3 linked regions of the Homo sapiens genome follow. The protein of the gene in region 2 purifies or fractionates together with the protein of the main gene of each other region. This does not show direct contact. Each region holds a gene or a part of one and is shown on either strand. Other genes may lie near its edges. The genes, in order: SLC5A12, SLC38A4 and CLPTM1L.

The links.
Region 1: the proteins of SLC38A4 (region 2) and SLC5A12 purify together in Homo sapiens (affinity purification with mass spectrometry; one large-scale study listed by BioGRID and IntAct). This does not show direct contact.
Region 3: the proteins of SLC38A4 (region 2) and CLPTM1L purify together in Homo sapiens (affinity purification with mass spectrometry; one large-scale study listed by BioGRID and IntAct). This does not show direct contact.

What each region holds. Positions count from the first base shown.
Region 1 is NC_000011.10:26,676,917-26,680,569, forward strand, and holds part of SLC5A12 (sodium-coupled monocarboxylate transporter 2), read right to left. Parts: intron 1,900-3,653; coding exon 1,796-1,899; intron 1-1,795. UniProt on the Homo sapiens protein: Acts as an electroneutral and low-affinity sodium (Na(+))-dependent sodium-coupled solute transporter.
Region 2 is NC_000012.12:46,773,869-46,777,521, forward strand, and holds part of SLC38A4 (sodium-coupled neutral amino acid transporter 4), read right to left. Parts: intron 3,137-3,653; coding exon 3,036-3,136; intron 1,306-3,035; coding exon 1,181-1,305; intron 1-1,180. UniProt on the Homo sapiens protein: Symporter that cotransports neutral amino acids and sodium ions from the extraccellular to the intracellular side of the cell membrane. The transport is electrogenic, pH dependent and partially tolerates substitution of Na(+) by Li(+).
Region 3 is NC_000005.10:1,324,482-1,328,134, reverse strand, and holds part of CLPTM1L (lipid scramblase CLPTM1L), read left to right. Parts: intron 1-2,318; coding exon 2,319-2,384; intron 2,385-3,321; coding exon 3,322-3,372; intron 3,373-3,653. UniProt on the Homo sapiens protein: Scramblase that mediates the translocation of glucosaminylphosphatidylinositol (alpha-D-GlcN-(1-6)-(1,2-diacyl-sn-glycero-3-phospho)-1D-myo-inositol, GlcN-PI) across the endoplasmic reticulum (ER) membrane, from the cytosolic leaflet to the luminal leaflet of the ER membrane, where it participates in the biosynthesis of glycosylphosphatidylinositol (GPI).

The sequences.
Region 1 (3,653 bases), on a different chromosome or scaffold from region 2:
AGACCAAACAAGACCAAGATAAAATATGACACAAGGAGAACAGGCCCACAAAAGGCCTCTGTCCTTCCTTACTGACCCTATTCTACATTTAAACATTGTAAGACTTTTTAAAAGATTCAGTGGGTATTACAGAAGATTTGTTAAAGCCTCTTAGTGAGCAGACCTGAGGTTATCAGGCTAGCCCTAAGGCCTCATTTGGAAGACAGGGACCAGGAGGCAAGAACATCTGGTGGTCATGTTCAAAAATTTTTCCAAATGTTTGAAGGCATAATTAGACTTTGTTAGAGTGTTCGCTTTTGGCCTGAAGGGCATTTGACTAAGACCTGGCTTATTTGGAGAAAAAGAAAACAAAGGGATTAATACTGGAAGAGTTATTCATGCTGAAAATGTGTAAGAATTTTCAATCAAATTTAATATAAGTGCTGCTGTATCAACATAAGAGCATGCTAATTCTGGTGCACACATGGAAAATATGGACTGGCAAACTACTGGATTTCATGTGTACACATTTCCTGATTTAGAAGGAAATGTTCAGGCAGCTGAAATCTTGGTTGTCTTCTTAGTGGTGACCGATCACTAAACTGAAATGTCTAGGTATATCCCACTAGCATCAAGGAAGGAGTTACAGATGTCAGGGTACTAAGGCAAAATCTAAACAAAATGAATAAACAATCTTTTGCCTGAAACCATTTACATAAAGACATTGAGAGAGTTGTTATTATGTGAAAGACTGGGGTTACAAGATTTATAGTCTATTCTTTATCATAGCCAAGATCTTCTTAAATTTCAGTGAATGGCTAGTGACATCATGCACAGAACAATAGGGCATTGGAGCTTCAATATAACATCTCTAGTACACAGTCACCAGAAATGTTGCCATTCAGGTTTTGTGTTGAGTCAGAATGTTGGCCATTGTTCATTGGTATATAATAGTCATGGAAAAATAGAATACCTTAAAATTTTTTAGCTAAAATACATACTCCAAGGAGGTGGAGGGACAAGAGTACAGTGAACTTATTCCACCCCATTATCTCCCACACTCTCACCACTACCAACCCCTCATGGGCTTTGAAACAAAAAGGACATTAATACATCAAAAGGGCAAGTATGGATGGTAGACACTTTGCTAAAAATGGCTTACAGTGAAGCTGCTCACTGCAGAGAACTCCACGACCCTAGAGAAGCAGCCTCCAAAGGACAACATAGGCAAAAACAACAGTGTTTTGCTTTTCTAGTAAGTTAGCAAAGGCTGACTTCATGAGATAGTAAGATGGTGATGACAAAAATCTTGTCTCTTACTGGGATGAAGGGAAAAGAACCACTCTGAATATTTAACCTTATTTACTGATTGTTATATTACAGAGGGTTTTTCATACTCAGGCCTCTGGGGGGCATGTGTCAAAGCATCTTTTTTTAAATAATATATGGGAAATGTTTGAATATATGTTTTTTTGTTTGGTTGGGGTTTTTTTTGGTTTTTTGAGACGGAGCCTTGCTCTGTTGCCCAAGCTGGAGTGCAATGGCACCATCTCAGCTCACTGCAACCTCCACCTTCTGGGTTCAAGCGATTCTCCTGCCTCAGCCTCCCGTGAATATATGTTTTATATATTAATAGTCAGGTATATAATAATGAAGGGTGCCTTTGTATGTCAGCGTTGAGAGAGTAGACATCTCTGTGGGAAGAAGGGTTTTTGTGGGAAACGTGAATTCAAAGCAATAAGACAGACAGCCAGTCCACCAATGCATGCATGAGCCCATATCTTCTTTAGTCCCAAAGGGAGGAATTATAACCAACCTGTTATGAGGCTGATGATTACTCCAGCAACAATGCATCCTAAGCAGCCCACTGCACTGTAGTAAAGGTAGGAGATCGAGTACCAGGTATCAGCTATTCCAGGTCTGTGGAGAACAGCACATGTCACCAATTCCATGCATCCTAAAGACCCACAGTGATGTAGAGGACTGCTCAGGATTCATTTTAGGGCCTGGCATCTCAAAAGCCTAAATCATAACTTTTTGTCATTTAAAAAATTATATTTAGAGAAGATGTGCTTTGTATTCCACTCAATTCAATTCATTCCTGAATTACAAATATAACGATGTTGATACTGAATCATAAGTATTACAATGAGGATTGTGTCTTAATACAAATAATACAATTTCATTTGTATTATTTATTCTTCAGACTTTTATTAAGCCCAGATTTAGTGCTAGTAATTGTGACAAGCATTAGTGATATAAAGATGAGAAAGTCACAAAGTCTACATACAGGAGCTAATAGACAATCATAAAATGGGTTGGTTTTGCCTCAGTAGAAAAGGTATAAAATACTATGGCAGCCTTCAGAGTAGTATCAAATTCAGACCAATGCGTGAGATGATACCTCAGCTCATTTTGAAAGAATAATTAGTAGTTAATCAAGCAAAGAGGGTAGTCAGGGCCAGGAATTAGCATTCTAAGAAGAGAATACAGTAAGTATAGGCAGGAGGGAAGAATCAACATGGTTTATGGGGAACCATGAATAGGTTGAAATTCTTCGATATAAAATTTATGGAAAGAAAATGAAACTCAAAGACAAATGGAAGCAAAATAATGGAGTGCCCATTTGGAACCTGAGTCAAAATGAACTTTATGGAGGAATAGGAGACACTAGTATGGCTCTTGAAAGATAAACAGATTTTAGGAGAGTGGAAATGAACACTAAAATATATTCATGTAAAGGGAATAGCTTAAGGACCCAAATGTAGGAAAGAGTGGGATAAGCATAGGTAGACGAGAAGAAACAGAATTCAGAGTAGAAGGAAAACAATAGTTAATAACATTAAAACCACAGGAAAGTTTTAAGTTTGGCAGGTATTTAGCTCCAGGATAAAAAGGTTGTGTTTTATTCCATAAGCACATGAATCATTTAAGTCATCTCCATGTGGTAGTAATGAGTTCAGAAAGGTGCTTCAGAAAAAATAAATCTAGTGATGCTTGGATAGAATGGGTTGTATTAGAAAGGAAAAGAGATAGAAAAATGGAGGAAATAAAAAATACAAATAAGATAATTTCACTTTTCTGGACTTTGTAAAGACAAGACTAGCCTCAAGATTGACAAGGACAATGGAGAGGAGAAGATATGCCGGACCGAGAGAGACTTTCATGAATGCAATTTGCCACATTATCTGGCCAGTTTGAGAAGCCTGGACTCAGAGGGAATGAGCCAGTATGGGGAGATATTGATGATAATCAGAAAAGGGCTACTAAAAATGAAGTACTTTTGAGGATACACAAATAACACAAATCCTATATTTTCTAGACTTGCTCTTACATACAATTAGAATGTGAGAGTGAACATTTATTAAAGTCACGTGTAGTGCTACTTTATATATATGTATATATATTCATATATATATATGTATATATATTCATATATATATGTATATATATTCATATATATATGTATATATATTCATATATATATGTATATATATTCATATATATATATATATTTCCTCATTTTTCCATCAAGGGCTCTGAGAATTCAAGAAGTTACAACTTACTAACTTGTCCAAAGATACAGAGGGAATAAATTATAAAACCAAAATCCAAACCCAAATATTTCAGATTTCAAAGTCCACAATCGTCTCTCTACACCATAGTATCTGATG
Region 2 (3,653 bases):
ATGCTTACACTGTGCCAAAATTTAGTGAGTGATTTTTTTACACATAAAAAGAAGGGCTCCAGATATCCTTTTCTCAGTGAAGTTGTTTGCCTGGCAATTTTACCCTATCGTATACCTTCTGTTTATAGTTGTCTTCTGTCTTGTACCCAAGACGGAGCTGATTTTAGGCTAAAGCTATGTGTATGTCATCTGAAATACTTTCAGATATATTAGAGGCAAGACATGATTTAAGAGTAAAATATTAGCCACCATAGTAGTACGGATCTGATTTCATGCACTCATGAAAAAGGAATGTGCCAAAATATATTTCAGCACACAAGCTGCATTTAAAGTGACCACAGTGTCATTATAGAAATAGTCTTCATATGCAAGCCCTGTATGGAACATTATGTCCAGGACAGTGCTGGTTACTGTGTCACTTATTTTTTTCCCCCTCAAATGAATGAGTAAATTCAGTGTTTATGAAACAGGAGCTGGCAGGAGGGTGAAGACCTGTGTTTATCCTTAGGTGGTGGTTTTAACTCACACAGCCCAAATCTTCACTACCAGCTCTGCTCTGGGATCTCAGAACAAACTGACACCAATGACAAATGCCAGGGAGGGGTGACCTGGTGTGAGTCTGGCAGAGGCCATGTGTGAGAGAGATATGTGATAGATAGCATAACTGTTTTTTGAAAAATTTTTTTCTGGTATATAATTTACTTAACATGAATCCCCTTTTCATTAGCCTTCAAGGCATCAGGTTAAAAAAGGCAACTTTTGTATATTATTGCAGCACAACAAACTGGAAAAAAAATGAAATGCCTTCAAAACTGTGATGAAATTTAATAAGATTTGAAAGTTAATATGGTTTTGGCTTTCAAGGTTCCAAAGTTATATGAACTCCTACTCAGTTTTACTAATCCACAAGACAGAAGCTCCAGCTCCACTTTTCAACTTTGAGTTTAAAAATAAGTTTTATGATTTTTTTCCTACACTATAAAAATACCACCTGAAACTACTTGCTCTATCTACACATTAAATGGCCAATTTTAAGTGACTCAAAATGCTATAGGAAAATAATATCCTCAGGCATTGCAATTGCAAACTCACCCTATAATTAAATCAAAATGAAGGTAGAACACATGTACTAATTTATGGGGTCAAGTAGGTTTCTTTCATCAAAGTCTTATGTACTTACTGGGAAGAGGACAATGGGCACAGTTAGTGTTACTGCCACAAGGACTGCCAGGCGAACCATGAGAAGAGGGATGTCTAATGTATACACTTTGCTGTAGGCATGAAGTAATTCATCTTCAACTTCTCCTACAACAGGAAAAAGAGAATGAAACCGCTTGGTGTTGTCAAATCAGCACAGGTCACTTATGGCAACATTTTATAGAGAGAACACAGAACAGAGGAAAAGACCTAGGCCTGGGAATCCAGGCACCTCTGGTCTTGCCTCTGAGCTCATTAGCTATGCAACCTTCATTCAAATGAACAAAGAGGTCCTGAAGCTGATAACGTTGCAGAAGGTATAATACAAAATAAAGAGCCTCTCAAGCTCATTTACATTGTGATAAATCTATCTCCGCTGTACAGAAGCAATTACAAATCAGACAGAGACCAAGGTGCTCTTGTTGAAGGGGATGAGAGACCCAAGCCCCACATATTGTCTCTCCCAGCCTACCACCTCCCCTGTCCCTACCTGCGCAGCCACTCCTGATGCAGGTTACAAACCCAGTGTGTAAACTCTAGGATGAATGATTGCTACCATTTTTTCAAGCTCAACAACTATGACTCCATCACCACACTAAAACAGATATTTTTGGGCTCTTTCAAGTTTTTGCTTGTCTTATGAAACTCATTAAAATAAGTATAAGTAACATGCAGGGATAAATTAGTATAATTTTTAGATGGTCTCCCAGTGGGTACTACTCTAAGACGAAGATGCAGCCCTACTTGAAAACACCTTCATTCAGGACTCCAAGCACAAATAACAAGAAAATATCTATGGAATCAAGCGTAGTTGGATTTTCACCTCAAGATCAGACAAAAAGGAGTGAAAATACCTTCAGTAGTATTGACCTCGTCATTCATTATTTCACAACCGGCAAAAAGTTAATGCCCAATCTAAAGCACATGTTTGGTTAATAGTCAAATATTAGTCAAATAGAAAAAAAACCTAAGCAAATGGTGGCCTACTCCTGAATCTTTTCCTCCACAATTTGTCATACATGCAATTCAATTTACCAAGTCAGTAAGAAAAAAATTAAGTTAAAAACTTTAAAAGGAGGTTTATACAAAAATATATTTATATTGATACACTGATTCATGTAAACATATGCTACCAGGTCAATATGTGATTCCATGAAATCTGTTTATGTGGCCACACTTCATGGAAGGAGTACAATCCTACTCCCTTTGTGAACTGTTAAGATGCCAGAGAGGAAATGTTGCAGGCATAATCTAATGTGGCCATAGTCACTTTTTTTTGGTGGTGCATTCTTAGATTGAAGGAAATTCTGTCATGTCCTCTTTCTTAGGAAATCATTTAGTATAACAAAATAGAATGGGATATGTCAGAAATTTTACCTAAAGTCCCAAGCTCCCAGATTTGACTTGACTGGTAAAGAGGAGGCAAATTCAAACTTGAGGACCTGGCAGTTTCCCTGCTATTTGTGTGGCAGGTAATAATTCCATCAAAGGAGCTTTATCACATGCAAGTGGATTCATTCTCATCACTTGTAGCCTGAGTTGGACTATGGAGTCTAGCCAGAGAAATATCATCTATCCCTAGAGGAAAATAATTTTGTTTGAGGGATATTTTTTATAAAATAGGTGTTAATTCACAAATTCTTGTAACTTGTTAGCCAGGCTGAATCAGGCCCCATTTCCTCAGGTCAAGTGACAAAACTAAAATAGTATATTAATTGAATATGTGTCATCTATAGAGCATGCTTATAGAAGGCAATTTTTAAAAATCATACCTACCCAGGTCAAGGACCAGCCTAACAAGGATTTGCATATAGAGAATGACTTTCAGAGTGACCTACCATAGAAGGTTAGGTAACCAAAGAGGGCGGCAAGCAGGTACATGACAAGCATCCCCGTGATGGAAATATTTGACACCGTTTGCATTTTTCTCCGGGACCGACTGGAAAAAGAAAGAACACCAAGCTTTGTTTTTTAAACTTACAAAAAAAAATCACTTTTCAAAATGAAAATAATAATAAAAAAGTATATCTATATTGCTCATCATGAAGACATATTTAGTACATAAACTTATAGCTGATTTAAATTTGTCTTAGAGAGCTAATGAGGATTCATTTCCATTTTTCTTAAACACTAGTCCTTCAGTCTTAAAAACAATCATTTCCCTAGAAGAGGAACAGTCTATTTCACGTAGGTCAGTAAGCTTGCCCACTGAATAAGAATATAATTAACATAAAGATCAAACAGGCTCCTAACATAGAAAGCTTTTGCATTTCATAATGAGATGACTTTAGATGAGGAAAAGAACCTAGTAGAGTCAGCAAAGTACTACTGCCAGGAGTCCAGACTACCTGAAAAGCTTCTGAAAACCATTCTAGAAGGAACCTGGCTGCCAAAGATCAATTGTCAGGCTTCTGGAGTAACTGCTACATGTAATTTTCAAAGTAAATCAAAGACAT
Region 3 (3,653 bases), on a different chromosome or scaffold from region 2:
GGATGGAATGTGTCTGTAGAGGAGGAGCTGGATGGAATGTGTCTGTAGAGGAGGAGCTGGATGGAATGTGTCTGTAGAGGAGGAGCTGGATGGAATGTGTCTGTAGAGGAGGAGCTGGATGGAATGTGTCCGTAGAGGAGGAGCTGGATGGAATGTGTCTGTAGAGGAGGAGCTGGATGGAATGTGTCTGTCGAGGAGGAGCTGGATGGAATGTGTCTGTAGAGGAGGAGCTGGATGGAATGTCCCTGTAGAGGAGGAGCTGGATGAAATGTGTCTGTAGAGGAGGAGCTGGATGGAATGTGTCTGTAGAGGAGGAGCTGGATGGAATGTGTCTGTAGAGGAGGAGCTGGGTGGAATGTCCCTGTAGAGGAGGAGCTGGGTGGAATGTCCCTGTAGAGGAGGAGCTGGATGAAATGTCCCTGTAGAGGAGGAGCAGGATGAAATGTGTCTGTAGAGGAGGAGCTGGATGAAATGTGTCTGTAGAGGAGGAGCTGGGTGGAATGTGTCTGTAGAGGAGGAGCTGGATGAAATGTGTCTGTAGAGGAGGAGCTGGATGGAATGTCCCTGTAGAGCAGGAGCTGGATGGAATGTCCCTGTAGAGGAGGAGCTGGATGGAATGTCCCTGTAGAGGAGGAGCTGGATGAAATGTCCCTGTAGAGGAGGAGCTGGATGGAATGTCCCTGTAGAGGAGGAGCTGGATGAAATATGTCTGTAGAGGAGGAGCTGGATGGAATGTGCCTGTAGAGGAGGAGCTGGATGGAATGTGCCTGTAGAGGAGGAGCTGGATGGAATGTGTCTGTAGAGGAGGAGCTGGATGGAATGTGTCTGTAGAGGAGGAGCTGGATGAAATGTCCCTGTAGAGGAGGAGCTGGATGGAATGTGTCTGTCGAGGAGGAGCTGGATGAAATGTGTCTGTAGAGGAGGAGCTGGATGGAATGTGTCTGTAGAGGAGGAGCTGGATGGAATGTGCCTGTAGAGGAGGAGCTGGATGAAATGTGTCTGTAGAGGAGGAGCTGGATGGAATGTGTCTGTCGAGGAGGAGCTGGGTGGAATGTCCCTGTCGAGGAGGAGCTGGGTGGAATGTCCCTGTAGAGGAGGAGCTGGGTGGAATGTCCCTGTAGAGGAGGAGCTGGATGAAATGTCCCTGTGGAGGAGGAGCTGGATGGAATGTGTCCGTAGAGGAGGAGCTGGATGAAATGTGTCCGTAGAGGAGGAGCTGGATGAAATGTGTCCGTAGAGGAGGAGCTGGATGAAATGTGTCTGTCGAGGAGGAGCTGGATGAAATGTGTCTGTCGAGGAGGAGCTGGATGAAATGTCCCTGTAGGGGAGGAGCTGGATGAAATGTCCCTGTAGAGGAGGAGCTGGATGGATTGTCCCTGTAGAGGAGGAGCTGGATGAAATGTCCCCGTAGAGGAGGAGCTGGATGGAATGTCCCCGTAGAGGAGGAGCTGGATGGAATGTCCCCGTAGAGGAGGAGCTGGATGAAATGTGTCTGTAGAGGAGGAGCTGGATGAAATGTGTCTGTAGAGGAGGAGCTGGATGAAATGTGTCTGTAGAGGAGGAGCTGGATGGAATGTGTCTAGAGGAGGAGCTGGATGAAATGTGTCGGTAGAGGAGGAGCTGGATGGAATGTCCCTGTAGAGGAGGAGCTGGATGAAATGTGTCTGTGGAGGAGGAGCTGGATGAAATGAAATGTGTCTGTCGAGGAGGAGCTGGATGAAATGTGTCTGTAGAGGAGGAGCTGGATGAAATGTGTCTGTAGAGGAGGAGCTGCATGGAATGTGTCTGTAGAGGAGGAGCTGGATGGAATGTCCCTGTAGAGGAGGAGCTGGATGAAATGACGCTGGAGCTCCACAGGCAGGGTCCCTCCATAGGTACGAGTCACAGTGCCGTGCCCGGCTCTGGCACCCGTCCTGAGCTCCGTGGGTGATGCCTTCCAAGCATTTAGCCATGAGGTGGCGGCTCTCAGAGCGGTCCCAAAACTGGCTCCAGGGCTGCCCGAGTGGCAGGCAGAAGTAGGTGGGGGCTTATTTGGGTGCAGGCAGAGTGGCGTAAAGAACTGCCCTCACATGCTGTTTTTGTTGTCCGCTGGGCGGTGGCTGTGCAGCCCACCTGACCAGGTACGCCTGCCGTGTGTGGGTTAGAGGCCCAGGTCCAGCCTCCAGCGCTCTGGCCTGAGCTGTGGGAGGGACAGGAAGAGGACAGTGGGCTGCGCGGGGCCATGGGCAGCAGGTCCTACCCGTTACTGTCTGGGTCGTTCATTCGTGGCTCCTGGCCTTCGAATATTAAAGGAACTATTTCCTGATTTCTCCCCTCAGCTGTGGAAAGTGAAGAAGGCATTGAAGATGACTATTTTTTGGAGAGGCCTGATGCCCGAATTTCAGGTAGGATTTAGTTGTAATGGCTGAACCCCAAGCCTCTCTGAAGAGTGTGATTTTGCCCCCTGTGCAAAGAGTAAGATGGCCATCTGCAGATGAGTCACTGCGGGCCTCTGTCAGGGGAGCCTCCGTGGTGGAGGCAGCACTGGTTTCTGATCGCAGCCACTCTCTTCGCCTGAGGATTCCCCGGTCATATACCTAGTTCTGACCGTCTTCAGTGCAGACGGCAGCACTTCTGGGCCTGAGCCGGCCTCTGGGAGGAAGGATGCTGGCTGGCCAGCACGTGTGCTTCGTTTTGGCACCTTGTCCAGAGGCGCTCCCGAGGCTGGTGCTGACTGGGGTCCGTACAGTCCTGGCAGTCCTGAAGTGAGTGAGCCCCTGCCCTGAGCTGGTGGCTGCCCCAGTGCCTGGGCGCCCATAAGGCCCCTAGGCAGATGAGGGCTGGGGCAGAGCTGGAGTTGAATCTCAGTGCCCACGGATGGACCTTGATTGAGGCGGGGCCCTCAGCAGTCACAGGCTGAGATTTTCCATGCTGTGGGCAGGGGGGTCAGGAAGCCCAGCACACGCAGCGCAGCCACTGTGTTCCACCTTGCCCCATGGCTCCCGGCCGGCTGGTTCGGAGCAGTGTTGGCTGTGCCTGTGTGCTCTGCAGTGTTCTCACTGAAGCGGTGGCACTGAAAACTGAGCCACCTGAGCAAGGAACAGCAGTGAGGCCGCGTTGCCCCCATCAGGCTTGTGGGACCCAGGGCCAGGGTGAGGCGGGAAGGATCCATGCGGATCCCCGTCCTCTGGGTCCTCTCCTCGCCTGGTAGGGACCTGAGCGCCCTCTGTAGTGAGGCCTGGGTCAGCTCTGCAGCCATATGTGACGCCCCTTAGTCACAGCTCAGCTGTGCTCAGATCCTCCCTGAGTCTATTAATATCACTGTGTTGAATTTCACAACAGTTTGGCACTTACAGCGAATCTGAGAGGAAAACCGAGGAGTACGATACTCAGGTAAGTCACTTGTGATTCAGGGCACGTGCATGCCAGGCAAATCCAACACCCTCAAAGACGGGTCTTTTACTGTCATTGCTCAGTGCGGAAGTCTCCTTGGAGTACGGGTCAGCCCGCCTTGAGCAGGGATCCCAAGAGTGAACACATAAAACCCAAATTTCTTACTGGGAAGGGCGGGGGCTCGCAGAGACTCATTTCCCAGTCCTTACAGGCACAGCCTGCCTGTGTCACCGTATAGTAGGGATATTTTCATCGTTTGTAAGTCACATTCGCCAGGCAGC